Linked DNA regions of Homo sapiens: region 1 is linked to region 2. Evidence: fine-mapped expression QTL. A gene starts in region 2. The other region holds a variant in brackets. All regions are shown on one strand. Distances are between the middles of the regions. Region 1 overlaps PAH (phenylalanine hydroxylase). Region 2 holds the start of PAH (phenylalanine hydroxylase).

Region 1 (4,396 bases), 46 kb after region 2:
ATAATAATAACTCAAAAAAGTGCATAAATGCCAGGTTTCATGAGTCAGATAGCATGTGCTATCATTTCTAAGGTCACTGTGTACTGGAATGGTTAGGGAGGACTTCTAGAAAGAGGAAGATCTGAGTCTAGCCCTCTAGCAACCAGAGCAGGCTAACTGCTCAGCAAAAACCCCCAGATCTCCGTGGCCAACCCAATAAAAGTTCACTTCCAATGTGGGTCAGTAAGGAAACTGCTCCACAAAGTCTTTCAGAACCAAGCCTCCTTCCACCAATGGCTGTACCCTCCTTCAACTCCTTGGAGCCCACTCATTCTGCCAGTGGATGGGAGAAGAGAGAGTGAGAATTGCTTCTGGGAAGTTTTCATGGGCCATGTCTGGAGATGACTCACATCCCTTCAATCAAATTCCATTGAGTAGAGCTCAGTCACGTGCCCACTACTAACTGCAAAGAAGATGGGGGAAAATAGTTTAGCAACGTTCTCTGAACAAAGGAGAGAGGACAGATCTTGGGGAGCACCAGCAACCTCTGCCACATAGACCCCCAACTCCAGAGCTACCTATTCCAGTTTACCTGGCAGCTGCACTGGAGTCTAGGCTACAGATCTACAATAGAGGGGGCTTCTTAGTGAAGAAAATATCAGCCAACACAACTGTCCTTCTGTGGATATTTCTACTTCTTGACCCAAGTCTTTGAAACTACATGGTTTTTTTTAATGGAGTTTCACTCTTGCTGCCCAGGCTGGAGTACAATGGTGCAATCTCAGCTCACTGCAACCTCCACCTCCTGGGTTCAAGTGATTCTCCTGCCTCAGCCTCCCACATAGCTGGGATTACAGGTGTGTGCCACCACACCCAGCTAATTTTTGTATTTTTAGTAGAGATGGGGTTTCGTCATGTTGGCCAAGCTGGTCTCAAACTCCTGATCTCAGGTGATCCGCTCGCCTCAGCCTCCCAAAATGCTGGGATTATGGGCATGAGCCACCACACCAGGCCTGAAACTGTTTTTAACCTTTCAAGGTGTGGGCATCAAGTTTTCCTGCTCTCCTGTAGGAAATTTCTTCTTCAGCAAATTGCCCAATAACAAGACTATATTTTTCAATACTTTTCTCCTTTTCTCTTCCTTTTGCCCACCTAATTTTCTCCACCTGAGGCCCTGTCAGAGTTCCTTCTAAGAGTCAGTCAGCTAGTTGAGTCATCAAAGACTTGTTGCATTCTTACTAAATTGCTCTATCCAAGCATAATTTGTGAAAAGTTAAAAACATAACTGTCATGCAGGTATATAGTGAACACCTGTCAAAGATCCATTTAACTCACTATTGAGGGAACCAGCAAGATGACAAAGATAGTGCAGAAAAGATACAAGAGACGAAAGTACACGTGGTCATCGGAAAATAGAAAGCCAGAATAAGGTCACAAAGATGGATGCACAAGTGATTAATGTTCCATAAGACAATAAAGCCATAATTATGTGTCTTAACCTTTCTACTAGGCAGAAACAACTTACAATTTGATAATAAAATGAATATTTTGCAACTTATTGGTCTTCTAAAAAGCCAGCATCTACTTTGAAGTGATTGTAACTTTATAAGTAGTAAATATATGTCCCCTTAGAGCACAGAGTGAGCTTGTGAGACAATGATCTCATATGACATTTAAAAGGCACACAGTAATTTTTTTGCCCTAGGTTTTGCAAATATATATATATATATATATATATATATATATATATTTTTTTTTTTTTTTTTTTTTTTTTTTTGAGGCAGAGTTTTGCTCTTGTCACCCAGGCTGGAGTGCAATGGCATGATCTCAGCTCACTGCAACCTCTGCCTCCCAGGTTCAAGCAGTTCTCCTGCCTCAGCCTCCCGAGTAGCTGGGATTACAGGCATGCGCCACCACGCCTGACTAATTTTGTATTTTTAGCAGAGACAGGATTTCACTATGTGGGCCAGGCTGGTCTTGAACTCCTGACCTCAGGCGATCTGCCCACCTTGGACTCCCAAAGTGCTGGGATTACAGGCATGAGCCACTGCACCTGGCCTGTTTTGCATAATTTTTGAACAGCTTCTACTTGGGGATATGCTGAGTGTGCTATGCCCTGAAAATCCAGTGATATGTAAAAGAGTTTCCTGAGTTTAATCATTATTAACATATGTGAGACCATCTGAAA[C/A]GAGAAACATACAACACACTGAGAGAAACCAATAAACTTTGGAAAAATCCAGGAAGACAGAAAGAACAGATAGTGACTTATTGGTCTAAACGAGTGGGGAAGAGGGTCCCACTCAGAGGGTAGAACACGTGTGAAGGCCTTGATGTGGGAAAGAGCATGGTGTGTTTAAGGAATTAAAGCAAGACCAGTGCACTCTGCAGCATCATAGGAAGGCCAGAGTGAGTCAGCACAGGGCTGGACACATAGACAGAGCTGGATCATGTAAAGCCTTGTGGACTGTGCTAAATATTTTGGACAATAGTCTAATAGCAATGAGAAGCCCTTGAAGGGCTTTTGAAGAGGCAAGTGGCCTCACCAGACTTGCACTTTATAAATATAATTTGGGATGAAGTGGAGGGGGTGAGAGGCCACTTACCCAGCAGCTACAATAGTCAGGCAAGAAATGGTGGTGGTCGAATGCAGGTGCAGCAGTGAGAATGAAGTAGGAAGGACAGACTCAGATGTTTGAATGGTAGAATGGGCAGAAATTGATTGCTGGATGTGAAGGAAGAGAGAAGGGGGAAGTAAAACAATAACTCCTGGCTTATGGGCTTGGGCAACTAGGTACATACATTTTTCCAGAATAGGCTTCTTGGCCAATTGTAGGGTGAGCAAAGGGATTGGGCATGGTCGGTGCTCCCCTAGTCTACTGTTTGCAAGTCCTCCTTGACCAATGTCTATAGGATGGGAATGGCAGCTACTTAATAAATGCCAGTTTGAACCTTTTGTCTTCTGTGTTCCATCCTTCCCCCAGTTGTCATGAAACATTATGAAAAATGCAAAAAGCCTCTTGTTATTGGCCTAGCTGAAATATACACAGCAAGGTAAGAATTCTGTAGATGTTGGTTTAAAAGCCCCTTGTGGCTGGTGGGGATCACTGACCCATTCCAGAGTACATCTTTTTTATATTCTGAGCCAGACTTCTCTGTCTTTGGATTTCCTGCCATTTTGCACAAATGCATCATGCTTTGAGCAACTACAATGTGCTCAGAATTTTGCTTAATGTGCTGCCGACATTACCTGACTTAAACTGTACAACACTGTGAAGCAGGTAGGATTGACAGTCTTATTTTACTGATGAGGAAACTAAGGCTCTGAGAGATAAACTGGCCACTCCCAGGCCATGCTCCTTGTGAATAAATGAATTAGTATTCCAACACAGCTTTTCTGACTTTAAAACCTGTGTTCTCACTAGCCTAAAGAGAGCACTTCTGAGGTTTAACCTTAGCTATGATATTAGGAAATGATGGAATAAATATCTCAGTCTACAAGAATACTCAAGACTTTTCCATATATGTAGTTACCCTCTCCCCTAAACCCACCCACACACACAAATTATACCTCTCAATACATGCAGACTTCAGTTGATGTCATGACTTGCATCCTGTAGAACTCTCTCGACTTTCTCCCGTCTTCTATCCCCTCCCCTCCCCCTCACCACTCCTTCACCAACAATATATTTTCCTGTCAAAACATACTTGGTTACATGCAGTGCAACTAAAATTGCTGCTATTAGTTTAATTGAGACAGGGTGATTATAAATAAATTACATGCAGTGCTACTGAAATTGCTGCTATTAGTCTAAATTGAGACAGGGTGATCAGTCATCACCAACTGTGATTTGATTCAGAATGTACTCCACATGGACGGCTACAGAGGCCCTGTGGTCGTCTGGTAGCCCAAGGAATGCAAGGCCAGATCCCCAAGAGGCTGGGCGTCAGGCCACAGAGCTCTCTGACCACTGGTAACTGAGAAAGCAAAACTCCCTGCAACCTGGTTGGTTGGGGCCCCTTGCAGGCTGATAATGAACTTAGAAACCAGGAGCTGGAAAGGGTCATGGTTAGAAACCTTCCCACATGGAAGATCTGTATAGTGCATTATCTGTGTGTGTGTTCCTGTATACCAATGTGTGAATCTCCTGCTACTTCACTAAAATGATTTGAGATGGATATTTAATACTATTTTCTTTTTTTTATTCTAAAAGAAACCCGTTCTCACATTAGAAAACTTGAAAAGCATAAATAGTTTTCAAGAATACAACTGTTAGTGTTACTTATTTTTCCCACTACCTGGAGGTAACACTTGTTAGAGTTTGGTGTATTTCTTTAATCATTTTATTTATATACTTACATATTTCCTCTGACATAATTGATATATGACATAATTGACATAATTGATAATATCAACTGG
Region 2 (4,371 bases):
AATATTGCACATACTCCATGAATGCATACATCTACTATGTTCCCACAAAAATTAAACATTAGAAAAAAGAGTTGCATTTTCAGCTGTTATGGGGAGAAGAAAGAAAAGCTATCATTTTGTTGTCCTAAAAATTATGTTGTCCTCATTTCAAACAGGAAAGCAAAAGTATTTGAGAGCCAGTGCAGTGCCTTGGTGTTGGGTGAAACATAGATTGAATTTGGGCCATTTGTTTAAACTTCCTAGGCCTCAGTTTCTTGCCTATTAAAAGGGAGTGCATAGTTCATGGGATTGTTAAGAGGAAGAAGTGAAACCATGCACGTGGAGAGCGTGGCACAGTGTCTAAGACAGAGTGTGCATGCAAATAAGTAGATAATATTCTTTGCTTTTCTTTATTGCATGCCTGTAATATTTTTGGAGTTGTCACATTCATTGCCCTCAAGTAGCATCAAGGGATGAAATTATGTTTGTAAGAAAATCCTGAGGCTGAGGAATACAACATGTTTTATGTCTACTACACTGAAAAATGCCGGAGTCAGATAAAGAATACAGATTCTCCTGAGGATGGAAATCAAGATCTTCGCCTTCAATATTTAACAACATTGAGCTTCCAACTTACTATGGGAAATATTCATCAGGCCCCTAAAGGTTCCTTTTGGACAGAAATTGCACTTGTTATATCTGTATTCTTAGCAGACAGTAGACAGCCTGGCACATCATAAAGGCTTAAGGAATCCTAAATATCCCTTAAAATTCTCATTTTAAAGACAAAAACAAAACAAAAAAAAAAAACAAAAAAAAACTGAGGCATGGGCTTGACCAAATCAGTGGTAGAACCAAGAGTTAAACCACTTGTTTTGAATCCTAAACCTGAGTTTTATTTTACTTATTTATTTATTTATTTGTTTATTTATTTTCAGATGCTTGGTCAAAGAACAGTGGGAGGAGAGGGATGGGCTTCCAGCAACCTTTATTATTGGCTTATTTTCTTACAGCCCATTACTTTCTCTTGGGAAAATATTAAGCAGGCACTCAAGGCTTGAGGCCCCTGAGTTTTCACATCCTTTCTGAACCTCTGAACCTGCTTTCCAGCATTCTTTTATACTTTGTTTTACCTCCTGGTCAGTAATGCCTCACCCTCAGTCTTCTCTAAAAGTGTGGTTAATGGCATCTTCCTGACTATTTGAAGACCACTGGCCAAATCCCACCAGCTCACTCATAGACCATCCCCCTACTTTACTTTCTTCAAAAGACTTAGCCCTACCTAAACTTATTTATATGTTTATTTTCTGCCCACCAGAATGGCAGCATAGCTGGGGAGGCAGAGTCTGTTTTGTTCATTGCTGTATTCCCAAAGACTAGAACACCACCAAGCACACGGTACAGGTCTCAGTAATTATTGTCAAATTTATGTGGATTTGCTTTTAAACAATATCTTCCATTTACTGAGTGTTTATGTGGAAGAACTGTACTAAATTTTAATGCATTTCTTTATTCCTATTCTTAAAACCTTCCAGCAAGGTGGCTCTACCACCCTCTTTTCCGAGCTTCAGGAGCAGTTGTGCGAATAGCTGGAGAACACCAGGCTGGATTTAAACCCAGATCGCTCTTACATTTGCTCTTTACCTGCTGTGCTCAGCGTTCACGTGCCCTCTAGCTGTAGTTTTCTGAAGTCAGCGCACAGCAAGGCAGTGTGCTTAGAGGTTAACAGAAGGGAAAACAACAACAACAAAAATCTAAATGAGAATCCTGACTGTTTCAGCTGGGGGTAAGGGGGGCGGATTATTCATATAATTGTTATACCAGACGGTCGCAGGCTTAGTCCAATTGCAGAGAACTCGCTTCCCAGGCTTCTGAGAGTCCCGGAAGTGCCTAAACCTGTCTAATCGACGGGGCTTGGGTGGCCCGTCGCTCCCTGGCTTCTTCCCTTTACCCAGGGCGGGCAGCGAAGTGGTGCCTCCTGCGTCCCCCACACCCTCCCTCAGCCCCTCCCCTCCGGCCCGTCCTGGGCAGGTGACCTGGAGCATCCGGCAGGCTGCCCTGGCCTCCTGCGTCAGGACAACGCCCACGAGGGGCGTTACTGTGCGGAGATGCACCACGCAAGAGACACCCTTTGTAACTCTCTTCTCCTCCCTAGTGCGAGGTTAAAACCTTCAGCCCCACGTGCTGTTTGCAAACCTGCCTGTACCTGAGGCCCTAAAAAGCCAGAGACCTCACTCCCGGGGAGCCAGCATGTCCACTGCGGTCCTGGAAAACCCAGGCTTGGGCAGGAAACTCTCTGACTTTGGACAGGTGAGCCACGGCAGCCTGAGCTGCTCAGTTAGGGGAATTTGGGCCTCCAGAGAAAGAGATCCGAAGACTGCTGGTGCTTCCTGGTTTCATAAGCTCAGTAAGAAGTCTGAATTCGTTGGAAGCTGATGAGAATATCCAGGAAGTCAACAGACAAATGTCCTCAACAATTGTTTCTAAGTAGGAGAACATCTGTCCTCGGTGGCTTTCACAGGAATGAATGACCATTGCTTTAGGGGGTTGGGGATCTGGCCTCCAGAACTGCCACCAATTAGCTGTGTGTCTTTGGACAAGTTACTGTCCCTCTCTGTTGTCTGTTTACTCTTCTGTACACTGAAGGGGCTGGTCCCTAATGATCTGGGATGGGATGTGGAATCCTTCTAGATTTCTTTTGTAATATTTATAAAGTGCTCTCAGCAAGGTATCAAAATGGCAAAATTGTGAGTAACTATCCTCCTTTCATTTTGGGAAGAAGATGAGGCATGAAGAGAATTCAGACAGAAACTTACTCAGACCAGGGGAGGCAGAAACTAAGCAGAGAGGAAAATGACCAAGAGTTAGCCCTGGGCATGGAATGTGAAAGAACCCTAAACGTGACTTGGAAATAATGCCCAAGGTATATTCCATTCTCCGGGATTTGTTGGCATTTTCTTGAGGTGAAGAATTGCAGAATACATTCTTTAATGTGACCTACATATTTACCCATGGGAGGAAGTCTGCTCCTGGACTCTTGAGATTCAGTCATAAAGCCCAGGCCAGGGAAATAATGTAAGTCTGCAGGCCCCTGTCATCAGTAGGATTAGGGAGAAGAGTTCTCAGTAGAAAACAGGGAGGCTGGAGAGAAAAGAATGGTTAATGTTAACGTTAATATAACTAGAAAGACTGCAGAACTTAGGACTGATTTTTATTTGAATCCTTAAAAAAAAAAATTTCTTATGAAAATAGTACATGGCTCTTAGGAGACAGAACTTATTGTACAGAGGAACAGCGTGAGAGTCAGAGTGATCCCAGAACAGGTCCTGGCTCCATCCTGCACATAGTTTTGGTGCTGCTGGCAATACGGTCCCCACAACTGTGGGAAGGGGTTAGGGGCAGGGATCTCATCAGGAAAGCATAGGGGTTTAAAGTTCTTTATAGAGCACTTAGAAGATTGAGAATCCACAAATTATATTAATAACAAACAAAGTAGTGTCGTGTTATATAGTAAATGTGAATTTGCAGACACATTTAGGGAAAAGTTATAATTAAAAAAATAGGCTGTATATATATCAATGGTTCCAAAATTTTCTATGGTTAAGAATCACCTGGGATGGTTTTGAAATGGCAGATTCTAAGACAACTTGATTCAACAGGTTTAGGTAAAGCCCAGGGAACTGCATTATAAGAAGGAATCACCTGTAATTTTGGAGTCAAGATCCAAGGAACACTCATTGAGAAACACTGATTTACAAAGTGCATGGAGAGAAATGGAGCAAGTGAAGGGGGATCAGCATGGTGAAATATAGGCTGTTAGGAGTGCTATTGACTAACTGTCTGGTGACTGGACCAGAGTAAATCTTTTACTTTGCAAGAAACAGGACTAAATTCCCATATTATGTCCATAGCAAAGGGAATTATGTAGAAAAATTGATAATTAGGAGCCTGAGTTCTTGACCAGCCTCCACTACCTATGTGGCCTCAGGTGAGTTATTTTCTCCCTTTGGCTCTAAGTTTTCCCCATCTGTAATGTAAGGGAGTTTAACTAGATGAGCACTAAGGACAAATCAATTTCTGTGAGTCAATTATTATGAAATACCATGTGGGCATCAAATGCCAAGTGGAAAGCATAGATAAAGAAGTGATTGTGCACCTGGGCTGAGGGGAACAAACATTTCCTAAGAGAATTGAGACCCAAAAGAGCCTTTAAGGAAGGTGAGATCTTGGAAAGGGAAATTTGGTGAATACTCTAATGAGGAGCTAAAAAGGCAAGAAAGAAAGCAGCTTGGCTGGAAAGGAGGTTCCTGTAGGTGGGCCTCCAGAGATTCGGTACCACAGAAACTGCCAAACATCAGCAAGAAGCCATGGGGATGGAGCGTTTGAGGGATT

The links. PIP is the estimated chance that this variant, and not a neighbour inherited with it, causes the effect.
Region 1: its variant is the best candidate, but not a certain one, in a credible set for the expression of PAH in prefrontal cortex (CommonMind, PIP 0.88).

The regions. Positions count from the first base shown.
Region 1 is chr12:102,869,283-102,873,678 of GRCh38, reverse strand. The region is part of intron 4 of PAH (phenylalanine hydroxylase); the gene reads left to right. The region is part of intron 1 of LOC124902999 (a long non-coding RNA gene); the gene reads right to left. Among named protein-coding and RNA genes, the nearest start is that of PAH, 46 kb to the left of the region's middle. The variant C/A (reference allele first, on the strand shown) is at 2,168.
Region 2 is chr12:102,914,989-102,919,359 of GRCh38, reverse strand. It overlaps PAH (phenylalanine hydroxylase), which reads left to right and starts at 2,116. Exons shown (of 13, transcript NM_000277.3): 1 at 2,116-2,289. The coding sequence starts at 2,230.